7 linked regions of the Homo sapiens genome follow. The protein of the gene in region 4 interacts with the protein of the main gene of each other region in a pairwise test. Each region holds a gene or a part of one and is shown on either strand. Other genes may lie near its edges. The genes, in order: ZNF835, NKAPL, RNF8, CLK3, SLAMF7, EIF4ENIF1 and HNRNPR.

The links.
Region 1: the proteins of CLK3 (region 4) and ZNF835 interact in binary tests that used the Homo sapiens proteins (3 or more experiments, as listed by UniProt).
Region 2: the proteins of CLK3 (region 4) and NKAPL interact in binary tests that used the Homo sapiens proteins (3 or more experiments, as listed by UniProt).
Region 3: the proteins of CLK3 (region 4) and RNF8 interact in binary tests that used the Homo sapiens proteins (3 or more experiments, as listed by UniProt).
Region 5: the proteins of CLK3 (region 4) and SLAMF7 interact in a two-hybrid assay, tested with the Homo sapiens proteins (one large-scale study listed by BioGRID and IntAct).
Region 6: the proteins of CLK3 (region 4) and EIF4ENIF1 interact in a two-hybrid assay, tested with the Homo sapiens proteins (one large-scale study listed by BioGRID).
Region 7: the proteins of CLK3 (region 4) and HNRNPR interact in a two-hybrid assay, tested with the Homo sapiens proteins (one large-scale study listed by BioGRID).

Annotation. Positions count from the first base shown.
Region 1 is NC_000019.10:56,664,695-56,668,946, forward strand, and holds part of ZNF835 (zinc finger protein 835), read right to left. Parts: intron 552-4,252; 5' UTR 505-551; coding exon 1-504. UniProt on the Homo sapiens protein: May be involved in transcriptional regulation.
Region 2 is NC_000006.12:28,257,793-28,261,893, forward strand, and holds NKAPL (NKAP-like protein), read left to right. Parts: upstream 1-1,504; 5' UTR 1,505-1,579; coding exon 1,580-2,788; 3' UTR 2,789-3,166; downstream 3,167-4,101.
Region 3 is NC_000006.12:37,356,231-37,360,482, forward strand, and holds part of RNF8 (E3 ubiquitin-protein ligase RNF8), read left to right. Parts: intron 1-4,215; coding exon 4,216-4,252. UniProt on the Homo sapiens protein: E3 ubiquitin-protein ligase that plays a key role in DNA damage signaling via 2 distinct roles: by mediating the 'Lys-63'-linked ubiquitination of histones H2A and H2AX and promoting the recruitment of DNA repair proteins at double-strand breaks (DSBs) sites, and by catalyzing 'Lys-48'-linked ubiquitination to remove target proteins from DNA damage sites.
Region 4 is NC_000015.10:74,618,587-74,622,838, reverse strand, and holds part of CLK3 (dual specificity protein kinase CLK3), read right to left. Parts: intron 3,643-4,252; coding exon 3,491-3,642; intron 2,831-3,490; coding exon 2,614-2,830; intron 720-2,613; coding exon 623-719; intron 346-622; coding exon 279-345; intron 1-278. UniProt on the Homo sapiens protein: Dual specificity kinase acting on both serine/threonine and tyrosine-containing substrates. Phosphorylates serine- and arginine-rich (SR) proteins of the spliceosomal complex.
Region 5 is NC_000001.11:160,745,406-160,749,657, reverse strand, and holds part of SLAMF7 (SLAM family member 7 isoform a precursor), read right to left. Parts: intron 1,465-4,252; coding exon 1,144-1,464; intron 1-1,143. UniProt on the Homo sapiens protein: Self-ligand receptor of the signaling lymphocytic activation molecule (SLAM) family.
Region 6 is NC_000022.11:31,479,496-31,483,747, forward strand, and holds part of EIF4ENIF1 (eukaryotic translation initiation factor 4E transporter), read right to left. Parts: intron 1-4,252. UniProt on the Homo sapiens protein: EIF4E-binding protein that regulates translation and stability of mRNAs in processing bodies (P-bodies). Plays a key role in P-bodies to coordinate the storage of translationally inactive mRNAs in the cytoplasm and prevent their degradation.
Region 7 is NC_000001.11:23,319,890-23,324,141, forward strand, and holds part of HNRNPR (heterogeneous nuclear ribonucleoprotein R), read right to left. Parts: intron 3,844-4,252; coding exon 3,667-3,843; intron 1,775-3,666; coding exon 1,639-1,774; intron 1-1,638. UniProt on the Homo sapiens protein: Component of ribonucleosomes, which are complexes of at least 20 other different heterogeneous nuclear ribonucleoproteins (hnRNP). hnRNP play an important role in processing of precursor mRNA in the nucleus.

The sequences.
Region 1 (4,252 bases), on a different chromosome or scaffold from region 4:
GCAGGCGTAGGGCTTCTCGCCCGTGTGCGTGCGCTGGTGCAGGGTCAGGTGCACGCTCTGGCTGAAGGCCTTGCCGCACTCGGGGCACGCAAATGGCTTCTCCCCGGTGTGGATTCTCTGGTGTAAGATGAACGCTGAACAGTAGCTGAAGGCCTTCCCGCAGTCCCCGCATTTCCACGGCTTCTTGGGGCCTCCACCTCTCTCCCGCTGGCGGCTGTCAGGATGCCTCTCCTTCGGGCTCTCCCCAGGCGCGCTGCACCTCCGGGAACTGCTGTCGTCGGGGACACTGGCTTGGGTAGCAGCAGGGCTCGATATGGTTCTTGGGATTCGGCTGAATTCATCGCGTTCCTGCATGCTGTCCCCAGCAGGGTCTCCCTTGCAGGCCACGGCCTCTGGCTCTGGACAGCTTTCCTGGTTTTCCTGCAGGTCCTCAACCTGGCCCTCGTGTTTCCAGTTTCCTTCCAACTCTGCGCCCTGGAGGGCGACGCTCAAGAGTCCCTCCATCCTCGATCCCTGGGCTGCTGTCTTGATCTCACATCTTTTCTCTGGGTCTGAAAAGAAAAAGATAGAAAAAAAAATTAAATGTTGCCACTTGTCCTGAGCTGGAAAAATGGCTAACAGCTGAACTGGTAAGAACTTAGCATGGGGTCCCTGGACCTCTGTGCCAATGACATTTTGGGTCCAATAATTTGGTGTGGTGGGACCCATCCTGTGTGTTGTGAGATGTTGAGCAGCGTCCCTGGTCTCTCCACACTGGCTGCCAGGGACACTACCCCTCAACCCCTGAGTTGTAACAATGAAAAATGTCTCCAGGCCGGACGTGGTGGCTCATGCCTGCAATCCCAGCACTTTGGGAGGCCAAGGCAGGTGGTTGCTTGAGCCCAGGAGTTTGAGACCAGCAAACTGTCTGCTGCCTGGGCAACACAGCAAGATCTCATTTCTACAAATGAAAAAAAAAATTAGCCAGGCATGATGTTGTGCACCCGTGGTCCCAGCTACTCAGGAGGCTGAGGCAAGAGGATCAGCTGAGCTCAGAAGGTTGAAGCTGCAGTGAGTAGTGATCACACTACTGCACTCTAGCCTGGGTGACAGTGTGAGACCCTGTCTGAATTTTCTTTAAAAAGTCTCCAGACACTGCCAGGTGTCCCCTCCCCTGGGGACAAAATTGCCCCCAGTTGGGAATCACTGACTTAATGGAACTAAAAACAAATTTAAAAGATCCCTGAAAAAGAAAAAAAAAGCATGAATCTGTCAGCTCTTAAAATATGGCCCTGTAATCTGGTGCTGTGAACTGAATTGTGCCCCCTCAAAATTTATACATGGAAGCCCTAACTCCCAAGGTGATGCTTTGTGGAGATGGAGCCTTTGGGAGGTGATTAGCTTTAGAGGGGGTCATGAGGGTGGGGCCCCCACAATGGGACTGTTTTATTTTTTTTTTGACATGGAGTCTTGCTCTGTTGCCCAGGCTGGAGCACAGTCTTGGCTCACTGCAACCTCCGCCTCCCGGGTTCAAGCAATTCTTCTGCCTCAGCCTCCTGAGTAGTTGGGACTACAGGTGCACGCCACCATGCCCGGCTAATTTTTGTATTTTTAGTAGAGAGGGGGTTTCACCATATTGGCCAGGCTGGTCTCAAACTCCTGACCTCAGGTGACCCACCCACCTTGGCCTCCCAAAGTGCTGGGATTACAGGCGTGAGCCACCGCGCTTGGCTGGGACTAATGTTTTGATAAGAAGAGGAAGCGACACCAGAGCTCGCTGTCTGTCAGGTGAACACATGGCAAGAAGGCAGCCGTCTGCAAGCCAGGAAGTGAGTCCTCAGTGTGGTCTGACCATGCTGGCACTCTGATCTCAGACTCCCAGCCTCTAGCACTGTGAAGAAATAAGTGTTTATTGCTTCAGCCACCTAATCTGTGATTTTTTTTGTAAGCTGGAGCTAAGATAACTGGAAAGACAGTTTTCTTTTCTGGGGAAAAATCAGTTGAAACTTTAATTCCCAGTGTGACAGCGTTTGATGTGGGGCCTTTGGAGGATGATTAGGTCATGAGGGCATCCTCCTTAATAGGATTAGCGTCCTTATAAGAGGAGACACCAGGGGGCTCACTTACTCTCTGCTCTCTCTGTCCTCTCTGCGTGTGAGGACACAGGGAGAAGGCGGCCATCTGTAAACCAGGAAGAGAGCCCTCACCAGACAGAATCAGCCAACAGTGATCCCAGATTTCACATTATGGGGACACTATTCAACTCACTATGCTCCCCTTCTACAGGGCTCCATCAGTGAAGGAGCTGCCCAGGGTCTCCCAGGCTCAGAGGTTCATGCTGGCTCGTGGGCCCAGGGTCGTTAGAGATGGTGATCTCAAGCTATTGCAGGTTACCCTGTCTGCTTTGCACATTTTCAGTGGAAAGCAGGGATCTGTTTTTATATGAGCCCAGGAAGTCACTGTTTTTTAGAAAGCCATAACAGAAGCCATACATATAGTTACTTCTAGTGGGGCTGTGATGCTGAAGGATTTATACCAATTGCCTGGTGTACACTGGACCTGCACGCTGGCGAGAAACTCACCACTGACTTCTGATGCTTTAGTTCTAACAGAATGGGAAGACAGATGGACAAATGACCTCCTGGTGCTGAGAGAGGGAAGGAGGCAGCTGCCTGTGGATCCACTGTGCTGGGGCTAGCCCCAGAGGAGGGGGCTCACACTGCTGGGAGGTCCTTTCCAGGCTGTGTGGCTGCAGGTAAGTGGCTACCTGCTCTGAGGCTCTGCCTGGTTTTCTCTCTCTAAACAGGGCTCCAGCCTCCCCTTCTCCCGAGGGACATGGCAGGTCTCTCAGCAAGCTTGGCCTCATGTTATGTGTGGGCTCAGCCCCTCACACACAGGCATTCCCTGAACCAACTAGTAGGCTGTGTGCATACAGCAGAGAGTGCTCGGCCTTTGGCTCCTCCGGGTACACTCCTGCTGCTGCTGGACAGGCTACGTCTGAAGCTTGTCCTCCCCACTTCCTGTGTGAGATCCTAACCCTTTGTGGTGGTGCTAGGAGGTGGGGCCTCTGGGAGGTGATGATGACATGAGGCTGGAGCCCTCAGGCGTTGGATTCCTGCCCTTATAAAAGAGGACCCAGAAGGCTCCCTTGCCCCTTCCTCCAAATGAAGACACAACAAGAGGGCCCGGTCTATGAACTAGGAAGCAGCCCTCACCAGACACCAAACCTGCCGGCACCTTGACCTTGGACTTCCAGCCCCTAGAACTGTGTGGAAATAAATGCTGTTTCTTTCTTTCTTTCTTTTTTTGTTTTTTTGTTTGTTTGTTTTGTTTTGTTTTTGAGATAAGAGTTTCGCTCTTGGTGCCCAGGCTGGAGTGCAGTGGCACAATGTTGGCTCACTGCAACCTTCACCTTCCGGGTTCAAGCGATTCTCCTGCCTCAGCCTCCTGCATAGCTGGGATTACAGGCATGCGCTACCATGTTCAGCTAATTTTTTGTATTTAGTAGAGATGAGGTTTCACCATATTAGTCAGGCTGGTCTCAAACTCCTGTCCTCAGATGATCCACCCACCTTGGCCTCCCAAAGTGCTGGGATTACAGGCATGTGCCACTGTGCCCGGCCAATAAATGCTGTTTCTAAGCCACCAGAGTATGGCATTCCGTCACACCCCAAAGGACCTAAAATAGGGCTTTTTTTTTTTTTTTTTTTGAGACAGGGTCTTGCTCTGTTGCTCAGGCTGGAGTGCAGTGTTGCAATCATAGCTCGCTGCAGCCTGGGAATCCTGGCTCAAGTGATCCTCTCACCTCAGCCTCCCAAAGGGCTTGGATCACAGGCAGGCACCACCAACCACACCTGGTCAAGACAGGGCTTTTGTGTGGGCTATTCTTTCTGCCTGACATGCTCTTCCCGCAGCGTGTGCCTCAGCAAGAGGACAAGAGGAGACCCTGAGGGAGTGATGATGTTTGTGTTCAGGGTGGAGAACACAGCAAGTGCAAAGGTCCCAGGGCAGGATGGTGACAAGGGTGGCAGAGGAAAGGTAAAGGGGGTGGGGCTGGACAGAGCAACTGAGGTGCAAGGCAGGGGAGATGCGGTAGAGTGGGGTGGGGGTCAGCTCACACAGGAAGTCACGTGTGCTGGTAAGAACTTGCTGGTGGGGGCCAGGCTGGGTCGGCTCAGGTGCCACGTCCACCGGCATCCCCGGAGTGTGCAGGGGTACCCACCTCGTGTGTAGGGGGAGGGCAGGTGGGTTCACAGCGGGGTTGGGTAAACCT
Region 2 (4,101 bases), on a different chromosome or scaffold from region 4:
CCTGTGTCGCTACCTGAAAGAAGTATTTCATCAACCAGCTTTGTAATTCAAGTCTACATCAGATACTAAATGGCTTAAATTTACAATTATCCAAGTAAGACATATCCATTTCATTGGCCTATCAAGTAGTTTATAACTCCAAAAGAAAATTTTCTTTACTTACACAAACTCTATAGTACTCACCCTATCCATATGATATTTTCACTATACATGTGACCATTCACATATAATACTCCCTGCTGTTTACCAGTTCCTAAATTCATATAATTTATGTATGGAACCAATTCTTATCCCCTTCAATCAAAGTACTAAAATTCTACTTAGAGCAAATGATATGATTTGGTCTTATTCAATTTAATTTCCCCCATTTTGTTGTTTAGAGTTCTAGCATCAGGAAGGCATCATTCTTAAGTTTTGACCTGGCTGTCAAACAACTGAGCAGATCAACTTAATTAGAGAGAACCAAGATGATGTTAATGCCTATTTACATTTTAAGATGAGAGATAAATGATCTTGCATAAAACGTTTATCATTTCTGAGAGTGAGATCTAATGTGTATCGAGAAAGTGGTTTCCAAACTACAAAGTTTCTGAAGAAGTCTCCCTAGATAGAAAGACATCTGTCTACAAGATCGAGTGGGATGCTTCTGTGTGTTTCTAGGGTGGAAAAGTCTGTGAATTTAATAATTAAAATCATGACTCTGGGCCGGGCATGGTGGCTCACACCTGTAATTCCAGCACTTTGTAAGGCTGAGGTGGGAGGATCGCTTGAACCCAGGAGTTTGAGACCAGACTCAGAAACAAAGTGACAACGGTCTCTACAAATAATTATTAAAAAAATCAACCTGGCGTGGTGGTGGGCACCTGCAGTCCCAGCTCCTCGGGAGGATCTCTTGAACCTAGGAAGTCAAGTCGGCCCTGAGCCATGATCGTGCCACTGCACCCCAACCTGGGCGACAGAGTGAGATCCTGTCTCCAAAAAAAAAAAAAAAAAGTACGACTTTGGCCTTCACCTAGCTTAGAGGGTGAGCTCAAACTGATTCCAAAAGAAGTTTTGGTTCTTGCTTCCAGTGGTAACAAGGGGGGTTGGGAAGTGATTAATTAAACATATTTCCTCCACGAAGAGGGTGGACAAGTTCCTTTTTTAGGAAGGAAAAAAGGAGGAGCGTTGGTAGTAGGGATCTTCCACAGAGGGGTAAAGTTAAGGAGGTGGAAATGAAAGGGAAGAACAAAGGGTGAGAAGCAAAATGGTAAAAGCGAAATCGAAAAAGAGAAGTGGGTGTTCCAACAGTAGAGGGGATCATTGACGCAAATTCGTCCTTTTATGTTCCCACACGGCTCAAGTTGGGGAATATAAGTCCTAAAAACAGGCGCACCCTAATCCTACCTACTTCCCACAAGAAGCCTTCACGCAGCCAAGGCCCGCCCCACATAGCACACGCGCGGATTCGTTTTCCGTTTGGTAACTGACAGGAAGCGGAAGCCGTGCGTGGGAGGCCGATTCTAGTGCGCCTGCGTGGCCGCGAATCACCAGCCAGCCTCTGGGTCTGTAGCAACCGCCCAGCGTTGAGGCGCGGCTCATGCCCCCAGTATCCCGGTCCAGCTATTCCGAGGACATCGTGGGCTCTCGGAGAAGGCGACGCAGCTCCTCGGGGAGCCCACCATCCCCGCAGAGCAGATGTTCCTCTTGGGATGGCTGTTCCCGCTCTCACTCCCGCGGCCGTGAGGGCCTCAGGCCTCCTTGGAGTGAGTTGGACGTGGGCGCTCTTTACCCCTTTAGTCGCTCTGGGTCGCGAGGGCGGCTCCCAAGATTCCGCAACTACGCCTTCGCGTCCTCCTGGTCGACCTCGTATAGTGGATATCGCTACCATCGTCACTGCTATGCAGAAGAACGGCAGTCAGCGGAAGACTACGAGAAGGAAGAGAGCCATCGGCAGAGGAGGCTGAAGGAGAGAGAGAGGATTGGGGAATTGGGAGCGCCTGAAGTGTGGGGGCCGTCTCCAAAGTTCCCTCAGCTAGATTCTGACGAACATACCCCAGTTGAGGATGAAGAAGAGGTAACGCATCAGAAAAGCAGCAGTTCAGATTCCAACTCGGAAGAACATAGGAAAAAGAAGACCAGTCGTTCAAGAAACAAGAAAAAAAGAAAGAATAAGTCGTCTAAAAGAAAGCATAGGAAATATTCTGATAGTGACAGTAACTCAGAGTCTGACACAAATTCTGACTCTGATGATGATAAAAAGAGAGTTAAAGCCAAGAAGAAAAAGAAGAAAAAGAAACACAAAACAAAGAAAAAGAAGAATAAGAAAACCAAAAAAGAATCCAGTGACTCAAGCTGTAAAGACTCAGAAGAGGACTTGTCAGAAGCTACCTGGATGGAGCAGCCAAATGTGGCAGATACTATGGATTTAATAGGGCCAGAAGCACCTATAATACATACCTCTCAAGATGAAAAACCTTTGAAGTATGGCCATGCTTTGCTTCCCGGTGAAGGTGCAGCTATGGCTGAGTATGTAAAAGCTGGAAAGCGAATCCCACGAAGAGGTGAAATTGGGTTGACAAGTGAAGAGATCGGTTCTTTTGAATGCTCAGGTTATGTCATGAGTGGTAGCAGGCATCGCAGAATGGAGGCTGTACGACTGCGTAAGGAGAACCAGATCTACAGTGCTGATGAGAAGAGAGCTCTTGCATCCTTTAACCAAGAAGAGAGACGAAAGAGAGAAAGTAAGATTTTAGCCAGTTTCCGAGAGATGGTGCACAAAAAGACAAAAGAGAAAGATGACAAGTAAGGACTTACTTGTTGCACAGCAGGAATTTTAACAACAAAAATTTTATGTGACCAAAAGTGTTAAAAGGCTTTACAGTGCTACTGTACTTACCATATTAGTAAGTCCCTCAGGAAAAAGCTTCTTTTGAGATATCTTTAGCAGCTTATTTTTTGTTATTTTAACTTTAAAAAGTAATATGTGCACATGGTTTTAAAAATATTCAACCATTATAGGAGGAGAGTTAGTAAAAAGTGAATCTTTCACTTTAGCCCCTGACACCTTTCCCCCAAAAATATATATTTTGGTGTCTTATATACAGAATATACATTCTGTGCATATACAAGAGTATATGTTGCAGCATAAAGATTAAAAGCTATTAAAGTTTTTTTTCGCTCGTTACTCTTTTGCCATTCATTTGCCCCGGGGGGACCAAAAGAAGCCCAGAAAGAACAAAGGATTCAATCAAGTGTATACTTCTACTTTCAGTTAATAGACTGGCTTAGAAAATAGAAAAGATTTAGTGGCTCTTACAAATGAAAAGTCTAGAAGAAGGATGGATTTTCTGCATGGCTTTAATTGGACATTGGCTTTCTTCTCCACTTTTTTTCCAAGGGTCATTTTCCTTGGGCTGGTTTCCCTTATATAACAAAAAGGCTGCCAAAGCTCCTGATTTTGGTTATCTTTTTTCTGGTCCATCTCTGAAGAGAGAACATTTCTTAGTTGCTAATCCAAACAAGAATCCAGAGATTCACCATAATGGGATAAGCTTGGGTCACATGCCCACTCAAAACAAGTGTTGTTGCTTAGGAAATAGAATGGCTTATCTGTGGAGTCATAGACCAGTTATAGAGGAATGGATTCTTGAATGAAAATCAGGGTAATTTTGGGCAAGGGGGATAGACAACCATAGACGCGTACTACAGTTTCGAATGCTTTTTTAAAAAACGTATAATGAAAGTACATGTGCTAAAAGTGAACATTTTCTTGAAGAAAAACTTGGCTTCGACTATTAGAAGTCAGATTCTAATTTAAGAGGATATAGGGTTTATTCATAAAAAGAGATATAAAAGATGGAGATCAGAGTGCTTGAGTAGATTAGGGCCACCTAGACTAGCAAGAGAAAGAAAAAATGATAAGGTATAAAGAAGAAGGCCCAGGCATGATGGCTTGCCTGTAATCCCAGCACTTTCGGAGACTGAGGTGGGAGAATTGCTTACGGCTAGGAGTTCAAGAGCAGCCTGAATAACAGCGAGACCTAGTCTCACACACACACACACACACACACACACACACACACACACACACACACAGATGTTAGGTTGTGAAGGGAAGAC
Region 3 (4,252 bases), on a different chromosome or scaffold from region 4:
GTGTAGGAGAAGCCTGCCAGGCTTGGCTGCCTGCAAGGTCAGGTCGTAGCATAGCCTGAAAAGAAGTCTGAATCAAAGGCAAGAGAAGAAGTTGTACTTATTGTTATGGTCCCCAAATCATAGCACAAGCTGTTTTGCACAAGATTTTAAAAGATACGCTAATAACATAACAGCAAAGGTAGGTCAGTTCCCTGCCTTTCCAGTTCTTAGTCTCAGATGTTGTGGATAAAATAATAAAACAGGGTTCCTTTCATTTCATTGATGGGAACACTGTAGTAAATTGTCTAATTAAGTGGCTTTAAGCTTGTTAAAGCAATGCATAGAGTTTGGTGGAAAAACAAGTAGAGATTTATTGCAAATTAGCTAGTTCTCAGGTACTATAAAGTATCTAGGCCTTTGGGGAAAACAACAGAACCTTCTCTCCCCTTTTCTTCTCTTGTATTTAGTTTTCATTAAGTTTTCTGCCCCAAGGGAAAAAAGGGAAAGGATGGTTATATTTACTGGTTTGGGGGCTTTTTTGTGGGGTGTTTTGTTTTGAGACAGAGTACTCCTTCTGTCACCCAGGCTGGAGTGCAGTGGTGTGATCACACCTTCACCTCCCTGGTTCAAGTGGTTCTTCTGTCTCAGCCTCCGAAGTAGCTGGGATTACAGATATGCACCACTATGCCCAGTTACTTTTTGTGTTTTCAATAGAGGTGGGGTTTCGCCATGTTGGCCAGGCTGGTCTCGAACTCCTGGCCTCATGTGATCCGCCCGCCTGGGCTTCCCAAAGTGCTGGAATTACAGGTGTGAGCCACCACACCTGGCCAGATTTACTTGTTATTTGAGAAACAGTAGGAATTGTGCCCAGGAGGAAAGAGATAGTCTTAGTGAAGGTGGGCAAAGACAGGATGATCTTTTAGATCAATAATGTGTGTAAGCTCAAAGGCTTGCAAAACTATTGTAAATGAAAACAACCCCTCACATATGGGTCGTCAGTCAGTTCCCACGGGAAATTCAGTGTTATGTTGAGTGGTCCTGAGATTTCCAGGTAACCTCACTGCACTCTTTAACTACAGTATAGGTGAAATATCAGTAGTACCAAGGTAAATTCTAAGACCAGGCAGTGCAGGGAAGGATGTAAAAGAATGATTCCTTTTTCTGGGTTCAGAGTCTGTTGGAGGCAATGTCAGGAAAAGGCACTCTTCTACTGTTTTGGTACTGTTTTCCCCTGGCTACTCACAATGGCAGTCTGGCTGTCTCCCCTCAAGTATTAGCATGTAATATGAGATGCTTCCTCTCTTAGAGATAAAGCTACCTAAATAGAAATTTTACTGAATATGGACGACAGATAAATCCCTAGCCATTCCATTTTTAACAGATATGTGTATTCAGAGGAACTTCTATAATTAATATAATTCTGGCAGAGTGTGAAAGAACTGAAAAACTTTGTGCTCAGTGTTGGTGGAGTGATCACCACAACATTTTAAAGAGAAACAAGTGAGACTGTATGAGTTCCAACTGCTGCTCCATATTTTCCAATGGTAATACAGTCTCTAACTTCTGACCTAAAAACACCCACCCTAAAATCTTGAGGACTCATATGCAAGACCTCTTTATTCTTTCATTCATTCTCAAATACTTAACTGAACACTATGCCAGGTATAGAAACACAGTGGTAAACAAGACAGATAAAGTCCCTGCTTATCTAATTTATATTCTATTACGGGGACAGAGGGGAAAAGTAAAATAAACAAGATAATTTTGGTCTGTGATAAGTACTTCCTAATAACTGAAGAAATATGATGGGAAGCAGACAACCAACTTTAGACAGAGGTAATCAGAGTAGGCTTATGAGTAGCTGGAACATGAAAGATAAGGAGCCTGTGCAAGATCTGAGAGAAGAGTGTTCTTAGCAGAGGGGCTAAGTGAAAAGACCCTCAGGTAGGCTGGCACTTCGGGGAGATGGGCTTAAGGAACAACAACAACAAAAAAGTTTGAGGGGCTGGAGCAGCTAGTGTTGGCACTATGGTATGAGTTAAGACTAAAGAGTAGAAGGGCTCAGGACATTCAGGGTCTTATAGGCCATGGAAGGAAGTTTGAATGATTGGACAGTTTTAAGGAAAGAAGGAAAATGACCTGATTTAAAATTTTTACATTTCTATTCCAGTTACTATTATAAAGCTTATGGGGGCTAGAGTGAGAACAGAAACAGTAGGAGGCCAGGTGGTTTGGACTAAGGCTGTGGCTGCAGAGATAGGAATGAACAGACTTAGGACATATTTGAATTATAGCCCATATAATTTACCAGTGATTTCAATGTGGGGATGAGGGACAGAGATGAATCAAAGATGGCTTCTGGGTTATGGGTTGAGTAGTTGGTTGGATAGTATTGTGAATACTGAGATAAGAGTTTGTGGGGAGGAATAGATTAGGTCAGTGAGTCGTGGTGGTCTTTGAGGGACTGAGGAGGACAGGCATTCTGAAAGATTTTAAAGAGAAGAGAAGAGGGCAGTTTTAGCTAACTTTGGTTTAAAGTTCCCAGTTAAGGTTGTGATATGGGACATTAAAGAGGTCGTTTGTGCACTAAGAAGAATATGCAGGGAGCCGGGCGCGGTGGCTCACACCTGTAATCCCAGCACTGTGGGAGGCTGAGGCAGGCAGATCACTTGAGATCAGGAGTTCGAGACCAGCCTGACCAACATGGTGAAACCCCGTCTCTACTAAAAATACAAAAATTAGTTGGGTGTGGTGGTGCGTGCCTGTAATCCCAGCTACGTGGAAGCTGAGGCAGGAGAATTGCTTGAACCCGGGAGGCAGAGGTTGCAGTGAGCTAAGATCGTGCCACTGCACTCCAGCCTGGGTGATAAAGCAAGACTCTCTCAAAAAAACAAAAAAAAATTAACAAACAAAAAAGAATAAGGGAATTCTGTGATCTGGAACTCAGAAGAATTTCATTTCCTTCCTTCACAGGGTTGTTATGAACTAGACTGGTCCAACAGGAAAGTATGATAGATGTGAACTGGGGCTTCTTTTCAACCTTTTCCGGAAGCTCTCAAGCTGTTCTTGTGGATAAGACAGAGAATATGTACTCCAATGCAAAGACTTTTGGTTGAATTATAACTGGCTGAAGGTATATCCAGATGGTGTGGGTTAATGTTTACTAGGTTTTCCTGAAAACTTTGCCTTTGGCTGCATCCCATTCTGTGTCTTGAACGAAGGTATAGAAGGCATCATCTCATAAATTTGGTGGAAGAGATATTAAGTATGTCTGATCTGATGGCAGATTAAAAATTCAGAAAGGTCTTGACAAATTGGTTTGATAGGCTGAACTAGCAAGATGAAATTTAATAGGAATCAATCTAAGGTCCTGCGCTTGAATCCAAGGTTTTCCATCCAGTCAAGTATAGAGCAGAAGAGACAGGACTTAGGATAGCATTTCTTGGAGGAGGGGGAGACCAAGAAATTTAATCATTCCTAAGTTCGAGGATACACTGGCAGTGTACTAGATCTGCTATGAAAGCTAATGCAATTTATATGCTCCAGTGATAATATCTAGAACTGGGAAAGTAACACTTGCGTTTGACTGTGTAATAGAAATTAAGTTTATTTTTCTTAATATGCCATCCAGGAATAAAGATAAACCAGCAGTCCCTTCACAGACTCATTAGAATGGCAAAGGCTCAAGCCCATCCCCTGGGAGTTAAGTTGAAGTAACTGGGAATACAGAACCAGGAAAAGAGAAAACTCAGTGTTCACTTTATATCTGTGCCATTGAAAGGGGATTGGAGATTTCCCGATGGTGCCCAGGGCAAAGCCAGGGCCAATGGATGGAATTTACAAGGAGAAAAATGCCAAGTCAGAGACATTTTAAAAATTGGAGGGCCTGCCTTATGTAAAGTTACTGACAGTATTTATGCGTTGATGGGATGTGTAGAAAGAATTCCTCTATCTCATAGTCATTGAACCAGATGACCTTTCAAGATCTTGGCAACCCTGAGATACATGGATAACTCTTTTTCAGCTTTCTCTTGTTGTCACAACCGTTTGCCTTTTTCTACTTGGTGGTTCTCAAGACAGCTGAAGAGGAGATAGCTGATGCACTGTTTTGGTTCCACAGGTGTCTGGTTTCTTAAGTCAGGACCTGCATATGCTGCTGGTTGATGAGATTTGTAAAGGACCTCCCTTTTCAGCACAATGACTGATGGTATTTCTTGCATTGTTGTTGTCTCCCAGGTGACTGTAGGACGAGGATTTGGTGTCACATACCAAC
Region 4 (4,252 bases):
CACCACAGCCCTGGAGAAGTGAAGAGATTGGAGCAGAACCTTTCACTGACCAACAATTCTTGGGTAGGGATGCCACATAACTGCAGGACCCAAGAATTTCTCCCTTATTACAGGGGGTCAGCAAAACCCCAACATGGACAGGTCGGAACCCTACTTTGATGCCACCCTTCAAAAAGAAAAAAGTTAAGCTCTGATAGCTGCCACCCTCAAGAACCTCAGGCCAGCTCTTCCCAGGAAGATCACATCCGGAGCCAGCTGTACTGCCGCAGCTCGCTCACCTGGCATGGTCCAAGCACTCCACCACCTTGCCAAAGGTGCCTTCACCCAGGTTCCCCACAATCTCATCTAGGAGAGAAAAGAAATTGGGCATGAGAATCTGGAGGGCAGGGGGTTGGCAGCTCCTGCAAGTTCACAGCATTCAAATTCTCAAAAACAAAAAAGGTTTCTCTCTCACTGCTACACTCTTAAAAATGGAAGTTGCTAGTGTCTGTGTCATTCAGGCAATTACTGGTGGCCCCGCTAAGGCACCACGCGCACTAGAGGCCCCTCCAGGCAGGAGAGGTCTCGTCTAACAAGGGGGGTAGAAAGTAGAGAGGTAAAGTTTTACGAAAGGTGGCTGTACATCGCTCTTGGAGCCAATCGCCGATCCGGCACACCAGGTGACCCTCCTTGTCATCTTCCACACTCCGGCTGCTGCGCTTACTGCTCTGTTGGCTTCTCTGCATGCACCGCCCCCCGAAACGCCATCCGACCAATCGCATGGTAGGCGGTTCCGATTGACAGATTGAGGTGTCAGTCAAAGGCAGAGGTGGAGACGGTGAGGAGCCGGTGGGTTGGTTGGTTGGATTTTCCAGATCCCAGCATTTCATAAGGCACACAGCATATATAACGATAGGGATATTGCAAGGGACACGTCAAGACACAAACTGACTTCAAAAACAGAAAAGTAAAAACAGCTACAGGTATGTAAAGAAAACTCGGACATTATCTTTAAGAGGAGCGCCACAAACGCTCAGGAAGATGACCTGCCTCTGCTGCTGAGGGCCACGCTGTGAGGAGAGCCATCGCCCCGACTCCCTCCTCCTCCTCCTCCGAGTCTCTCCCTCCCAGACCCTCCCATGTGGCTTTGGGCCAGAGCGGAAGATGCAGTGAGAACGGCGGCGCAAGAAGGCAGCTGGCCCCGCCTGGGTCCAACCATCCAGACTGGTCAGCGGCTGCTCCGGCTTCAGCTGCAGAATGCCCAGCCTGTCCTTGCCTGCCTCTGTTCGCCCACGCAGACTTGCACATGCCTGACAGCTGCCACTCACAGCCAAGCTGCTACCTGCCTCCAGACGGCATCCTTGGCCAGATTTCACCATCACTACCAGAAACAGCCTTCCGTCAGCAGCCCTCCTGCCACCAGCCTCAAGAAGGAAAGCAGCCTGGGATCCTCTGGGCCAGTCGACTGCCAGGCTTCCTACCACAATGGCCCACACAGGCCCCATGCCAGCTCCTGCCCTGGCCTTGGCACCCATGCTGCTCACAATCTAGGCCCATCCCAAGCCTCACGACGATCGATAGAGGGCACCAAACAGAGAAACAGAGCCAGACCTGCACTGCCATCCTGTGGCAGCATGTGGCAGTGTGCAAAGAGGTGAAAGGGCCACGCTGCAATCGCCCGCACAGTCAACCCTCAACCTGTAGCCACTCAAAGAAGTCACAGAAAGCGCTGGGCAGAGAAGACACCTGGCCTCTCCACTGCTCCTCAGGGGCCTCAAGGCCGGCAGGAGGGAGGCAGGGAAGAGGGATGGGGGAGAAGAGAAGACCGCACGTAACCTCGGAAATACACAACTGGCTTTGCTTCCCCAGGGGACTGAGCGCAATGTGGGCTCCAGAGACCTTACAACCCTCCATGCTAGGAATACTGGCCAGGCCCTGCTCTGGGCATGTGGCCTGCAACTGGACGAGGCCTGGGGCGGCAGCCTTTCTGCCATTTCTTCACATGCCCCATCACACAGGCACCTGCCCCTCCTCACCGCGACTGCCCCTCGTAAAGAGGCTCGGCTGGAGAGGGCCTGGCTGGAGATCAGAAGGGAAGTTCCCAGTCTGAGCTGGCTGACAGGCAAATCCTCCGGTCCTGTGAGGCACTCCAGACTGGGGGCCTTTGGGAAGGGGTGTGCAGATGAGACGCAGAGGTGGGTGCAGTCCACATCAGAGCACTCAGTTACACGAGGAGGCAGTCTCTGGGTGGGAAGGACCAGGCCATATAGCTGCAGACCACCATACCAGCCACTCTACTAGGATCCCTAAGAAGTGTCCTAAGAAGTGTCCCCAGCCACTTGCACCACGTGGCCTTTGTCTGGAGCACTGTGTAGACATAGACAGGCCAGGGGCCAGCCAGCATCGGAGCCAGAGTTCCTACAGTTGCCACTGGAAAGAGCCAGAAGACACAGAGGCCAGGACCCTGTGATCAGCCCTACACCTGGACCAGACAACACATACACACACACATGCACGCACACCAGTGCACGTGCACAGGGCTGGCAGTACTCACCCGGACCAGCCAGCCTGAGAGAAGGCTAGGAAGAGATGAGGCCTTTAAGCCCCAGCCAGCACACTCTGGCTACCACTCACCGAGGAGGCGCTGCTACAAGACCTGGTGCGGCGTTTGTGGCAGTGGTGGGCATGCTTGCGGGTCCGGTATGGCCCCCTCTCCCGCGATCGCCGACGATGACGAGAACGTGAAGGTCCATAGTAGTCCTCTCCAAAGGATGGGCTCCGCTCTTCACACCGGTATGTATCGCTGTCACGGCGCTCCCGGTACCTCCTCTGGTAGGGCAGGCGGTCATGGCTGCCAAAAGGGGGATGGGGACGCTGGTCAGCTGGGTCCTTGCTGTTAGCAAGCAAGAGACCTGTGGTAAGGCCACTGTAAAGGGCTAAAGGGGGACAGCCTGTGCTAAAAGCATCCACACTGGTGGGAAGTGGGCAGAGAGGGGAGGGTGCAAAGGTACTAAGCCCGCCCTCCAGAGCCCTGTCCAACGACAGCATCCTCCAGCTGTAGGAGGAGGGGTACAGGGGAAGGGGAGTATGGTAGAGTGCCTCCAAGGGTTCTATACCCTTCCAGAGTTCCCTGTGGCCTGCTGCAACTCTAAGTTTGACCTGGGAGCTAAGATAGGCCCAGGGAGCAAACTTTCCAGGGGTGAGGTTATGTTCCTAATCCTCACCAAGGAAGGCTTAGGAGGTTAAGCGGAAAGATGCTGGCCTAGAAAATGGGGGAATGTGTGGGGAGAAGAAAAGGCACTCCAAGACAGAGAAAGAGTGGGCGGCAAGGATGGTAGCTACTGCTGAGGCCAAGGCATGCAGGTGAGGTTAGTGGAGGAGCCCAAAGAGGACAGGGCAGGGATCCAGGGACAGCTGGGCAGGGATGGAGTCATCTCAAGGAGTCTGGAGCTGCCACAGCTGAGCCCAGCTGACAGAAGGAGTCTTTCCCTCCTATCTAGTTCCCTCTCACCTTCTGGACCGAGATCTTCGTGGGGGAGGCTCCCTTCGGGACGGGTATCGCAGTCTCCCTTCATGTTCCCGACTGTAGGACCTCCTCCTCTTCCATCGGTAGCTCAGGTACGGGTCTGGTTCAGGGGAGCGGTATCGCTTACAGTGATGCATCTAGGCCACGAGGAACAGAGAGCCCTGCTAAACACACAGCCAGCCACCTCCAGCCATGGGGCTGCTGGGGCTTCCCGGTTGCTCCTGAAGAGGCCCATTGTTCTGTTTGAAGGCGGCCCCTCCCAGAGGTTTATGAAGTGAAGAAGAACTCTGAGGTCACACTGGTCAAACAGCAGACAATAGGAAACAACTTTCTCTGCCAGTGAACAAACAAACAGCTCCCAGCAGAGCATCACTAGCCTGGTGGCCTGGGTGCTCAGGGAACTGGGTGAGCCAGGGCCAGGGGCTGAGGCAGTAACCCTGGGTGGGGACGGTGAACACTACCACAGGGAGATCAAAGGCAGGAGAAAGGGGAGCCTCCTGCACTCTATTCCCTCCCGCCCGGGGGGGCGGTCCCGTGAAGTGAATGCTCTGTAAAGCCAAAGGCCAGGCAAAGGGCTGTACACAGGAGGCGAGGGCTCAAAGCCCTCAAGTTTGAGAAGCTGAACGCTGTCTGGCTAGGGCCCTGAACTGGACCCCACTCAAGGGAGTAAGGACCACAAGTGAGCATGAGGAGCCACAAGAGACTAGAAGAGCAGCCCTTGGAGAAAGAGGCACACAGGCCTCACAA
Region 5 (4,252 bases), on a different chromosome or scaffold from region 4:
CCTAGGTCTGCTTTACCATAGCTATATAATAATAATAACAATAACAACAATAGAAATAATAGAAATAATAATGCAATAAGAATATAACTGTCATTTACTAAGCATAGCCACATGGCAAGCACTGTGATAACGCATGTTAGATGTCCGCTAATATTATCTGTTCTAGAGGTTCCCTAGTCTCTGTCCTCAGGCTTCCCTTTACTCTCTATGAGAGTTCACTTTACTCTCTAGGAGAAAATTGTGTTGGAGTAGCCCTTCTGGCCCCCTTCTCTACTCTGTGCTCACTCCCCTGCCTCAGAGAATGAGTAGTTGGTTCATTGGTGAGATGGTAAGAGTCTGACATTCATCATTTACCTTTCTCTACTCATGGGTTTGAGACGTTAAAGGTTGCAGTTAAAATGTGTTTTGCCCTTTTTCTTCCTCCCCTGACTAGTTAGCCTGCAGAATACATATCTTCTGTTCCCTTCAACCATGTCTATATGGAAGACACACCTGGATCAGGTGCAGTGCCTACCTCCTACAAGCAAGTCTGGAGGCCCATCCCCTAAGGTTCCTGATACTGTGGCTCAGTGAGTGAAGCAGCTATTCTTCTTGAAGAAGTTTGAGTCATTGTTTCATAATTTTAACTTCCCTGGATGAGTGCCAAGGTCTAGAATTGAAAGGAAGCATTTCTCCTGTCTAGATTTACCAGAAATATGCTGATATTTTAATCCCCTCCTTCTTGCATCTATTTATCAATTGGTTGTAATCTGTAGAGAAAGAGATGTGATCGATATTTTGCCCAAAAATCTTCCTAAGGTAGGCATTTCTTTCCTCCCCACTACAGATATGGAAACTAAGACTTGAAGAAATTAAATAACTCGGCTAAGGTCATGTGACTAAATAAAGAAGCCAGCATTTGACCTTGATCTATGCGATGGCCACTGCACATATCAGCCATCCACTGCACCACGCTGCTTCTTACAACATCTCTGAGTAGGCAGGGACCTCAGGGGTCAGCTACATCTATTTCATTCATGCAGAAGTCCCCTCTCCCACATTCTTGCCAAGTGTTTATTCAGCCTCTGCTTAAACATCTCTCATGTCAAGGAGCTCACCACCTCACCAAGGCAGCCATCCACCATTGGAACTGATTTTGCTCACCGTAGACATGCAGCACGTACTCCTGGGTGGAGGGCTGCTGGAGTGATGAGCTGTATATCCCCACATAGTAGATCCCTGAGTCATTCTTCTTCAGTTTGCTGAGCTTCAGGGAGTAGCCTCCATCTGGGAAGTCTACTCTCTCCCTATTACGATTTTGGGTCACTATGATAGTGCCCCCTTCTGGCTGTATGGTGACAAGAGGGGTTGTGTTGAAGGTCCAGACAATAGAGTCAACTTGCTTTACTTTGGACTTCAGGGGGAAAGTCACGGCCCCACCAACGGAACCGACCAGCTCTTTCACGGGTCCAGAGGCTGCTGACCCTATAAACACAGAGAACCATAAAATAAGCCTGATTCCCTGTCCTTGTCACCAATTACTCACCCCCTTTGGGTCCTGGAGAGATCTGAGAAACCCACTCAGTCCAACACAACAACCTCCTGGAAAAGCCTTTGGAACCTCATATAGAGGTCCCTCACATGTTACCCTATTATGTAAGTGCTCACATGGAAGCATTATATTAGAAATTTATGTATCACAACAATCTTAGTTCACTCCCAGAGAGTATGACTTATAAAAAATCATCACTGATTATGTGGTTGTAGGTGAAAAACAGTTAAGAATGTCTGCTGAAGAAACTTCCAGAAGTGGCCAGCTGAGCATTACCAGTAAACAGATGTGGGGAGTAAGTCATCTTATTCTTACCTATTAAACTTGAGAGACAGACTCTGGGAATAACACAGAGCAGTGAGAGAATTTAGTTTGGGACTAGCAGTTTAAAAGCATAAATTATAATCTTGATTAACACTTTTGTTTTTGAGACAGAGTCTCACTCTGTTGCCCAGGCGGGATTGCAGTGGCACGATCTCAGCTCACTACAACCTCCACGTCCTGGGTTCAAGTGATTGTCTTGCCTCAGAGTGATTGTCTTTCTTCAGCCTCCTGAGTAGCTGGGAGTCCAGGTGTGTGCCATCTTACCTAGCTAATTTTTGTGTTTTTAGTAGAGGTGGGGTTTTCACCATGTTGGCCAGGCTGATCTTGAACTCCTGACCTCAAGTGATCTGCCCGCCTCTGCCTCCCAAAGTGCTGGATTGCAGGCATGAGCCACCACACCCAGCCTTGTTTAACTCTTAAAACAACTTTTTGAAGAAACATTCTTTATATCCCTATCTTACGGATCAGGAATGTGAGGCACAGTGGGGGTAAATGACTTACTCAAGCCACCTAGTAAGAGGCAGAGTACACACCAAAACCCACAGGGTCGAGACCTTGAAGGGCATATTTTATAGATGAGAAAACTAAATAGTAGAAATGATAAGAACTTATTCAAGGCTGATAGAAATACAAAAACTAAGACTAAATCCTTAAAGGTGAGGCAGGTTAGGTAGTCAAGGAAGTAACAGTGTTCTCAGGAGGCAGTAACTCTGGTGACCCTACAGTCAATACAATAAGCCTCAGCATTCACATTGTAATTGAGCTCATTTAAGCAAAGCTATCTTCAGTGAGGACTTTCCGCTGTAGAGAGCATGCGGATTTTGATTTTACTTGTTCTCAAACTGACCCTTTGCTCATTATAATAGTAAAAAACACACCCATGGGTGGAGATTTAAGATGCTAATGAGACACGAGATTTATGAAGAAGCATGTATAGCTACTGTGCACGTCCACCCAGAGGACCACCAAGAACATGGTTACTAGTAACACCTCTTCCCACCCTCTTATGAATAATCATGTAAGACTCCCATAAAGGGGGTCTCCCCAGTGCCAGTCTTTGCTGTCTCATCCTTATGGGCAGCCCACCCTGAATTTTCCTTCTCTCAGAATGTACTGTCTTTTCTGCACTTAACTGTCAAAATATTCTTATTCTTTTGCAATCAATTACCCTATGCTGTATTTCCTTTGCTGTGTATCTCTCATATAAATTCTTTTAAACTAAGTAGACAAGAACTGAGGTCTCACATCAGCTGTCAACAAAGGTGTTCTCCTTAAAAGTACAAAACCCAAAGTTATTTCCCCTTCTGCCTCTTAACATAAAGTGTCAGGGTGAAATTTTTAAATGGAATTTTTATTAATTCAGTCATGAAAAGCACAAATGAAAGAAGCAAAGCCAACAAAACAGCCAAGCTATAGGATCCTGACAGTTCTAATGATGCTACTGCAAGGCTACATGGTGACTTTTGTGGTTCCTGTGTACTTTTGACCTTGTTGGTCCTTCTTCCATAAGAAATATTAAAAATCATATTTCATGACTGTGTTGGTATAAAATGAATGTGATCCGGGCTGGATTCATTATATATTCATTGTTATTGTTATTGCTATATTCATTTCTCTTCTGATTTTAAAAGAAATTAAAATTAAAACTATCGTGGGCCTTATGTACAGTGTCTCCTGTGTGTAATTGGCCCTGTGAGACTGACCAAGCATCCAGGCTCTGTTTCATTTCACAGCCTGCTCTCTTAGACACAATCTTTTCTTCTACTCCAGTACTGATGTAACTCATGCCTTTTCTAGTAAAAGGACAAATTCCTATACAGACATATCCAGATATCAAAAATTGCTTCATTAGAGATTTATTTCTTTGGTCCCTGTTAAAATCAAATATCTTGGCAAGGGTTTCCAAATTATAAGAGTTGTCATGTATTAAATGTTTATTCTGCACCAAACGTTTATTGTAAAGAGTATGCCTAACACTCAAAGCAATCCTGCAAATTAGGCATTTTGACCCTTTTACACAAGGATCAGCAACCTATAACCCATAGGCTAAATCTGGTCCACTGCCTGTTTTTGTAAATACAATTGTACTGGAACACAGCCAGGCTCTTTCATTTACATATTGTCTATGGATCCTTTTTCACTACAAAGGCTGAGTTAAATAATTGTGACCATGATTTATTGTCTGTAAAGCCTAAAATATTTATTCTCTGGCCCTTTTCAGAAAAAATTTGCTAACTCCTGACTTCATGAGAAAATTGAGATTCAAACAACGACAACAACAAATAACAACAGCTAAGTAACTTATCCAAGGGCACAAAGCTAGCAGGTGACGATTTGAGGATTTAACCCAATGTCTCTCCAGCTCTGGGACCTGGACTGTTTTCACTATGGCTCAAT
Region 6 (4,252 bases), on a different chromosome or scaffold from region 4:
AGTTCTTAAACTTGCCATCTCATCAAGAGCCCTTAACATTATTCGTGGAAATACCCCTTTGGGATATTTTCAAAGAAAACGTTCAACTATGGCTAAAGACAGAATACTTGGGAAGTGGCCACTCTAACTAGGAGTGCTTCCTTCTTATGAGTATTTCAAGAAAGGATGTGATATTACCCTTTTGGAAAGGTGTTTTTTTTTTTTTTTTTTTAATCTATCCTTTTGGAGTTTTTTTTTTGAGACAGGTTCTCACTCTCAGGCTGGAGTGCAGTGGCATGATCATAGCTCACTGCAGCCTCAAAACTCATGGACTCAAGTGATCTTTCTTGCCTCAGCCTCCCAAGCAGCTAAGACTACAGGTGCATGCCACCACATCCAGCTAATTTAAAAAATTTTTTGTAGAGATGAGGTCTTGCTGTGTTGCCCAGGCTGGTCTGAACTCTTAGGCTCAAGTGATCATCTTGCCTCAGCCTCCTAAAGTGCTGGGATTACAAGTGTGAGCCACTGTGCCTAGCCTGGAAAGTCTTAACCCATAGGAACTTACTGATCACGAATGAATTCATTAAGATTACCATATGGCGAATATAAGAGTTAATACCTGAGACTTCACTTTTTGCACAGGTTACTAAAACCTGACTAGGCAAGAACAAGCTGCTAATTGCCCAAGAGCCACACACCCAAGGAAGCATAAACATATTTTCTTAGTTGCAGCAGCCTTCCTTAAAGAAAATGTGTCAAGGCTCCCAAAACCTATTGGGGAATTACTAGTATGAACACCCACTTTTGGTGATCACTATTAAAGTGGAAAGCAAATGAATCTCAACAAAAGCCCAAAAGAACAATGGTTAAAATCCTTATCCATTTCTTTCTGCAGAAATCCTATGCAGAAACAACTATGCATTCTGATGGACCTTCTGACATTATGTAGAATTTCACATAAGTCACATTTATGGAAGGGGGATTAAAAGGGAAATATTCCTGGGCGGGCGTGGTGGCTCACGCCTGTAATCCCAGCACTTTGGGAGGGTGAGACGGGCAGATCACCTGAGGTCAGAAGTTTGAGACCAGCCTAACATGGAGAAACCCCATCTATACTAAAAATACAAAAAATTAGCCGGGCATGGTGGCGTGCGCCTGTAGTCCCAGCTACTCGGGAGGCTAAGGCAGGAGAATCGCTTGAACCCGGGAGGCAGAGGTTGTGGTGAGCCAAGATCACGCCATTGCACTCCAGCCTGGGCAACAGGAACAAAACTCCCTCTGAAAACAAAACAAAACCGAACAGGCAGGGGCCGGGTGCAGTGGCTCACGTCTGTAACCCCAGCACTTTAGGAGACCAAGGTGGGCAGATCACTTGAGGTCAGGAGTTTGAGACCATCCTGGCCAACATGGCGAAATCGTCTCTACTAAAAAAAAGAAAATCAGCTGGGCATGGTGGCACACACCTGTAATCCCAACTACTCAGGAGGCTGAGGCAGGAGAATCACTTCAACCTGGGAGGTGGAGGTTGCAGTGAGCCAAGATCGTGCAAGACTCTGTCTCAACAATAACAAAAAAGGAACGGGTAGGAAAAAGCAGTCAGAAGCTATTCTCTATGGTCTTGCCAGCCAGCCTGCTCTAACAACTTCCAGTAAGATAGGTTTTCTGGACAGTTGACACATTAAGATTGAATAATTTTTTTTTCCTTTGAGACAGAGTCTCACTCTGTTGCCCATGCTGGAGTGCAATGGTGCAGTCATAGCTCACTGCAAGCTCAACTTCCCAAGCTCAAGTGATCCTCCCACGTTAGCCTCTTGAGTATCTGGGACCACAGGTGCACACCACCACCTCTGGCAATTTTTTTTTTTTTTAACGAGATGGGGTCTCACTATATTGCCCAGTCTGGTCGTGAACTCCTGGACTCAATTCATCCTCCCACCTTGTCCTCCCAATGACTTTTCATACCATAATTCTACCTTCTCCAACATAAATAGGTATCCTTAAATTAGTTTAAGAAGTTTATACCTAAATTTGTCACAGAAATGCCACCTGAGTTACTACTCAGTTTATAAAAGATACATTTAGTTATCAAATAAGATTTCTGTACTGGAAAAAGGGACCACCTGATTCCTGTTTCAACCTAGGATTTAAATCAGTTACTCTTTTCTCTGGGGATTGGCTTCAAGTCTTCTGATTATATCCAAGAAGGCTAGGATGACTCAAGTCAGTCACTTCAACTGCTTGTCCATTTTCCTGATTGTTTTAAAGGAAAGACAAACATGGCTGTACTGACTGCTATGACCAATTGGCCTACCAGCCACAAATTAGGATGGCCTCCCTTAAAGATCCCTGGAGACACTAATGACTACAATAATGCCACTTTGTAACTAGTCAAGGTTATGAGGAGTCCACATGGGGCCAGATGCAGTGGCTCACACCTGGAATTCCAGCACTTTAGGAGGCTGAGGCAGGAGGATCGCTTGAGGTCAGGAGTTGGAGACCAGCCTGGGCAACATAATGAGATCCTATCTCTACAAAGAAATGAAAAAATTAGCCATGTGTGGTGACACACACCTGTAGTCCTAGCTACTCAGGAGGCTGAGGTGGAAGGATCGCATGAATGCAGAGTTCGAGGCTGCAGTGAGTTAACTGTACCACTGCACTCCAGCCTGGATAACAGTGAGAGCCTGTCTCAAAAAAAAAAAAAAAAATTCCACATGAAGTTAAACTAAGATAATTCAACATTCACTTAACTTTAATACGCATGTTTAACACTGGTCAGTATCAAGCTGAATGTTCTGAGTGTCTCTGCTTTTATTCCCTGTCCAACTGGCAGGTGACAGTCATTTAATAAGGAATCAGTGGCAAAACACAGGAGCAAAGGAAGAACAGCATAACGTATGTATCCTTTATAAGATTAGTCTATTTGGCCGGGTGCGGTAGCTCACGCCTGTAATCCCAGCACTTTGGCAGGCCACGGCAGGTGGATCACTTGAGGTCAGGAGTTTGAGACCAACCTTACCAATATGGTGAAACCCCGTTTCTAATAAAAATACAAAAATTAGCTGGGCATCATGGCACGTGCCTGTAATCCCAGCTACTCAGGAGGCTGAGGCAGGAGAATTGCTTGAACCTGGGAAGCAGAGGTTGCAGTGAGCCAAGATTGCAACACTGCACTCCAGCCTGGGTGACAGAGTGAGACGCGGTCTCAAAAACAAACAAAAAAAAACAGATTAGTCTATTCACTTGACGAAAATAACATGGATGTGAGGCCAGGCGTGGTGGCTCACGCCTGTAATCAGAGCACTTTAGGAGGCCAAGGTGGGTGGATCATGAGATCAGGAGATCGAGACCATCCTGGCCAACATGGTGAAACCCCATCTCTACTAAAATGTAAAAAAAATTAGCTGGGCATGGAGGCACGCGCCTGTAGTCCCAGCTACTCAAGAGGCTGAGGTAGGGAAATTGCTTGAACCCGGGAGGCAGAGGTTGCAGTGAGCCGACATAGGGCCACTGCACTCCAGCCTGGCGACAGACAGAGACTCTGTCTCAAAACAAAAAAACAGAAAAGAAAACCACATGGATCTGAATAGTGGGATGGCCTAAAACATTTCTATTTTGTATTTCAAGCAGAAGATGGCATCACTAACAGAATAGCAGGTACTATATTCCAGAACTGGTGAACAAGGGCTTCTGGTGAAGAAAAAGTTGAATGAGCACCACTGCCAGGAGACGATCTTTTTTTTTTTTTTTTTTTTTTGAGACAGGGTCTCTTTTTGTTGCACAGGCTGTAGTGAAATGGCGCGATGATGGCTCACTGCAGCCTCAAACGATTCTCTCACCTCAGTCCCCTGTGTAGCTGAGACTACAGGCAATACGCCACCATACCTAGCTAATTTTTAAATTTTTTTTGTAGTGACAGGGTCTTGTCATCCTGCCCAGGCTGGTCTTGAACTCCTGGGCTCAAGCAATCCTCCCATCTCAGTCTCCCTAACTGCTGGGATTACAAGTGTGAGCCACCACACCCAGCGAGCAGGTGATCATTTCTTAAGCCAATGGTTCTCAAACTTGAACCAGAGCCAGAATCCCCTGAAGAGCTTGTTAAATGCAGACGGTTAAGCTCTACTCCCCAAGTTTCTCCTTTAATACCACTGAGAAGAGGCCTGAGATTTGTATTTCTAACAAGTTACCAGATGATGCTAATGCTAGTTCAGGGAGCACACTTTGAGAACCACTGTCTAAACCACTCTTAAACCATAACTTTCAGGTGAGACCC
Region 7 (4,252 bases), on a different chromosome or scaffold from region 4:
TCTTCATCCTTCAGGTGCTGGTTGACATGTCATCTTATCAGAAAAGTCTTCCAAAACCATGGAAACAGGGATAGTAGCTATTCTCTAGCTAAATATCCTGTATTTCCTGCTTCAGTGTCTTATCACAATGTCTAAATATTCCTTTAATTTTTATTTTTTATATTCTTGGTCTTATCTCCTTTCTCAGGATATAGGATCTATGAAAGCAGAGAATATGTCTCTTAGCCATCAGTGTATCCCAGGCACATAGCACAATGCCAGCACTTAACAGGAACTTTAATAAACACCTGCTGAAAGAATGAATAAATGATCATGAAGCCAGAAGGAGCTATAGATAATAAAGTGATGAGGTCAAAGAACTGTGCCAGCAGTTGACAACACAATACTTGACAACACAATATAGCGGGTGGTAGCAGTGGTTACAAAGTGGGACGCTAGAAATCAAGAGTTCAGAGTGCATAGAATTTCTGGTGACTAGATCCAGAATGTAATCTGGATATGGTGGAGCTGAAGTAAAGGACTAAAGATGAGGTAGACATAGAAGTAGGTAGGAGTCTAAAGCCCTGGATGGTTCACCAATGTAGATGTTAAAGGTATTAGAAAGAAGCCAATTTAGGGCAGAAGAGGAAGACAGTGAGCCAGAAGCAATCTTTAGATTAATGAAAGGCTGAAACCACAAGAGCAACGAATGACAGCTTCAACAAAAGGGAAAGGATATGTCTGGATGATAAAAATGTAAAGAAACAGTGGTTTTTACAAGGGGAGGCAGCGGTCTAACGCAGTGTTTTTAAATCATAGGTAGTATTAGATCACAATTGGCATTTTAAAAAATGAAATAGAATAAGAAATATCAAAATAAATCATGTATAATAAATAAAAGTACAGTTTTGTTAAATTGTTTCAGTTATATATAAATGTGTATAGAACTGTGATATAAAATCTACTTCTCAATCAATTCCATGGATTTAGAATTGGATATTTAAAAAAATCTGATCAGCCAGGCACTGTGGCTCACGCCTGTAATCCCAGCACTTTGGGAGGCCGAGGCGGGAGGATCACCAGAGGTCGGGAGTTCTAGACTAGCCTGACCAACATAGAGAAACCCCGTCTCTACTAAAAATACAAAATTAGCCAGGCGTGGTGGCACATGCTAGTCCCAGCTACTCGGGAGGCTGAGGCAGGAGAATTGCTTGAACCAAGGAGGCGGAGGTTGCAGTGAGCCGAGATCGTACCATTGCACTCCAGCCTAGGCAACAAGAGCGAAACTCCGTCTCAAAAAAAAAAAAAATCTGATCTAGACAAGGCAGCAGGGAGAGAGTAAAAACTTTCATCCTCTTGGTCCTAAAATACACTAATTGTCAAGGGGAAAAAAAGCATTCACTTGAGGGCTATAGAGCAAAAGCTCCAGCAAAAGCCAAGGTTCAATTAAGACAAAGAAGTGAAGGGGACATTCCAAGAAATGAAGGATATAAGGGAACTTGCTTAAACCCAAACCACTATAAAGCAGAAAGGAAGCAATTTAGATACTTCAGACCTGAATTCTTAATTTAATACATACAACCCCTCAGTTTTTTTGAGCACTTGTAAGTAGTACAACATATTTCGCAAAAGTAATTTCTAAATACATTTTTGTTTTACCTGTGACTTTACTGAATTCTTCCAAAATGTTTTCTTTAGTCTTATTCTTCGGAATGGATCCAACAAAAAGTCTGTTGTTTGCCACAGAAATGCACACTCCAAGGTGTTTACCAGGGCGAATTTCATAGCTGTCACACTGCAATAAGAAAAGAACCAGAGACCCCAAAACCACCCCAAACTCAGGACAATTGATCTTAATCTAAAAAATTCAACAATTTAAGGCCAAACGCTCCCTGCTTCATCAACTCACCAAGTTCCCTCATGCTTTCCATAATATGAATGTATATTTTAAACTTCATTGTTACAGTCTCTTGTTTTAGTTTGGTTTTGTTAACCTTCACTACTCTTCCATATAAAAAGGACTCACTTTATTGTTTAAAATATCTTATTTCATATTTTAATTTTATCTATCTGAAAATGTTTTTCCACAGATTTTTCAGAAAAAAATACCTGAGACTGATCATTCAGGGTCCTTGGAAATGTAATTGCATATAGGTAAGCCATACTCAAAATAACAATATGTAAAGGGTAACAACTATGTTTAATCAATGCAAAGATATTAGAAAAATTTCAAATTCTACAGAAGTCACAGAATTCTAAATATATAGTTTTAAATTGTCTACCAAACACAATACTTTCAAAATTTTATAAAATTTTGAAAAATGTTTTATTTAAATCACTATAGTGGATTTTCTTGATAAATTGTAGCCCTTTTTTTTTTTTCTTAAGATGGAGTCTCGCTCTGTCATCCAAGCTGGAGGGCAGTAGCATGATCTTTGCTCACTGCAACCTCCACCTCCTGGGTTGAAGTGATTCTCCTGCCTCAGCCTCCCAAGTAGCTGGGACTACAGGCGTGCGCCACCACGCCCAGCTAATTTTTGTATTTTTAGTAAAGACAGGGTTTCACCACGTTGGCCAGGCTGATCTTGAACTCCTGACCTCAGGTGATCTGCCTGCCTCAGCCTCCCAAAGTGCTGGGATTACAGGCGTGAGCCACCACACCTGGCCAATTTTAGCTTCTTATACTTTAATATTATTTAACCATTAGTTTACTAAGAGATATGATTATTAAAAATAAAATCATCCATATGCTGCCAAAAATGAAAACTTAATATTAAATAAACAAGTTTGAAGAAAAAATCCATAATAAAAACTAAAATCTGGGTCAAGCTAGGAGTGGAACTAATTCAGACACCAGTAATGAAACCAAAGCCTTGATGAAAGAAGTTGACCATTCTACAAAGGCTAGAACTAGACTTAGTGAGGTCCTCAGAAGTCAGGCAAGGGTATGCCAAAAAATAATTACATTGTTATTTTAAGATACTGAGATAGCTGTGTCTTAAATACAGCAGGAGTGAAGATACATTTGATTTGCAGAACTTTGTTGCTACTACTACTGGTCTGAAATGAGCACCAAGTGGTTAAAGGCCCTAGAGAAAGGAAATTAATATGAGACTGGCTATAAATAGTAGGAGAGGAGAGAAAGATTAAAGACAGAGAAGACTCAAGGGCCAAGAAACATACAGGAAGAACAAAAATACACTTAGAAAATATGAAATAAATCGTATGAGTAGGCTGTAACCAAAATAAAACAGATTCACAACTATTTTCTGAATTGAATCCTAAGTCACTGTCATCCACTATTATGTTCCCCACAGCCCATTCCAGTCTTCATTATACTTTAAGAATCCTAAAGTTTAACATCAAGAATTGACATCCTTTTGCCTAAAACCAAAAGACAGAAATGCATAAGCCAAATACTCATATGAAACTTCTGATATCAATCTAATAGATAACTTCTTAAATCAATGGGAGACTTTCTATAAAACATTACTTTTTGGGTATTTTCAGTTCTTTTTTACTTTTATAGTCAGAGAAAAATAAACGTCACATACCAACTTGGTCAGTATAAAAACATTCCAAGCAACAACTGAAGAAATCAAAATAATGTTAACTACAAACATTTTTGAATTAAAGTTTATTTCCTCAAATAGTGACTTGCTAAGACAGTGGATAATTATCACATACCAGTTTCACGGCTTCCTGTGCAGCTTCCTTTCCACAGAAGGTGATAAATGCATACCCTCTATTCTGACCGGACAGTGGATCCATCATAAGACGTAGATCCCAAATGGGTCCGGCCTTCTCAAAAAGGGGCACCAACTCATCCTCATATAAATCCCTTGGTATTTTGCCTACAAATACCTGAAATAAAACCCCCTTATTAGAATCCAACATAAGCATTTGATTTTAGAGCCATAAAGCCTACTGCCTTTTTTTTTTAAAGATGGGGGCAGAAGAAGATGGTTAAGAAAGAATGGAAACAATCTGAAACTTACAGTTGACTTGCAGAGCTAATCCTAATTTTTATTATAATGACCTTAGGGTTATCAAAGAACAAGTCTCTTGAAAAATGGAAACTAATAAGAGTGTAAAATTTGTATTTACTCTAAATTTTAAATTTTTATAACTTGACTTTTTCTCATAAAAACAGAATAAAGGAGGCTGGACGCAGCAGCTCACGCCTGTAATCCTAGCACTTTGAGAGGCCAAGGAAGGCGGATCACTTGAGTCTAGGAGTTCAAAACTAGCCTAGGCAACATGGCAAAACCCC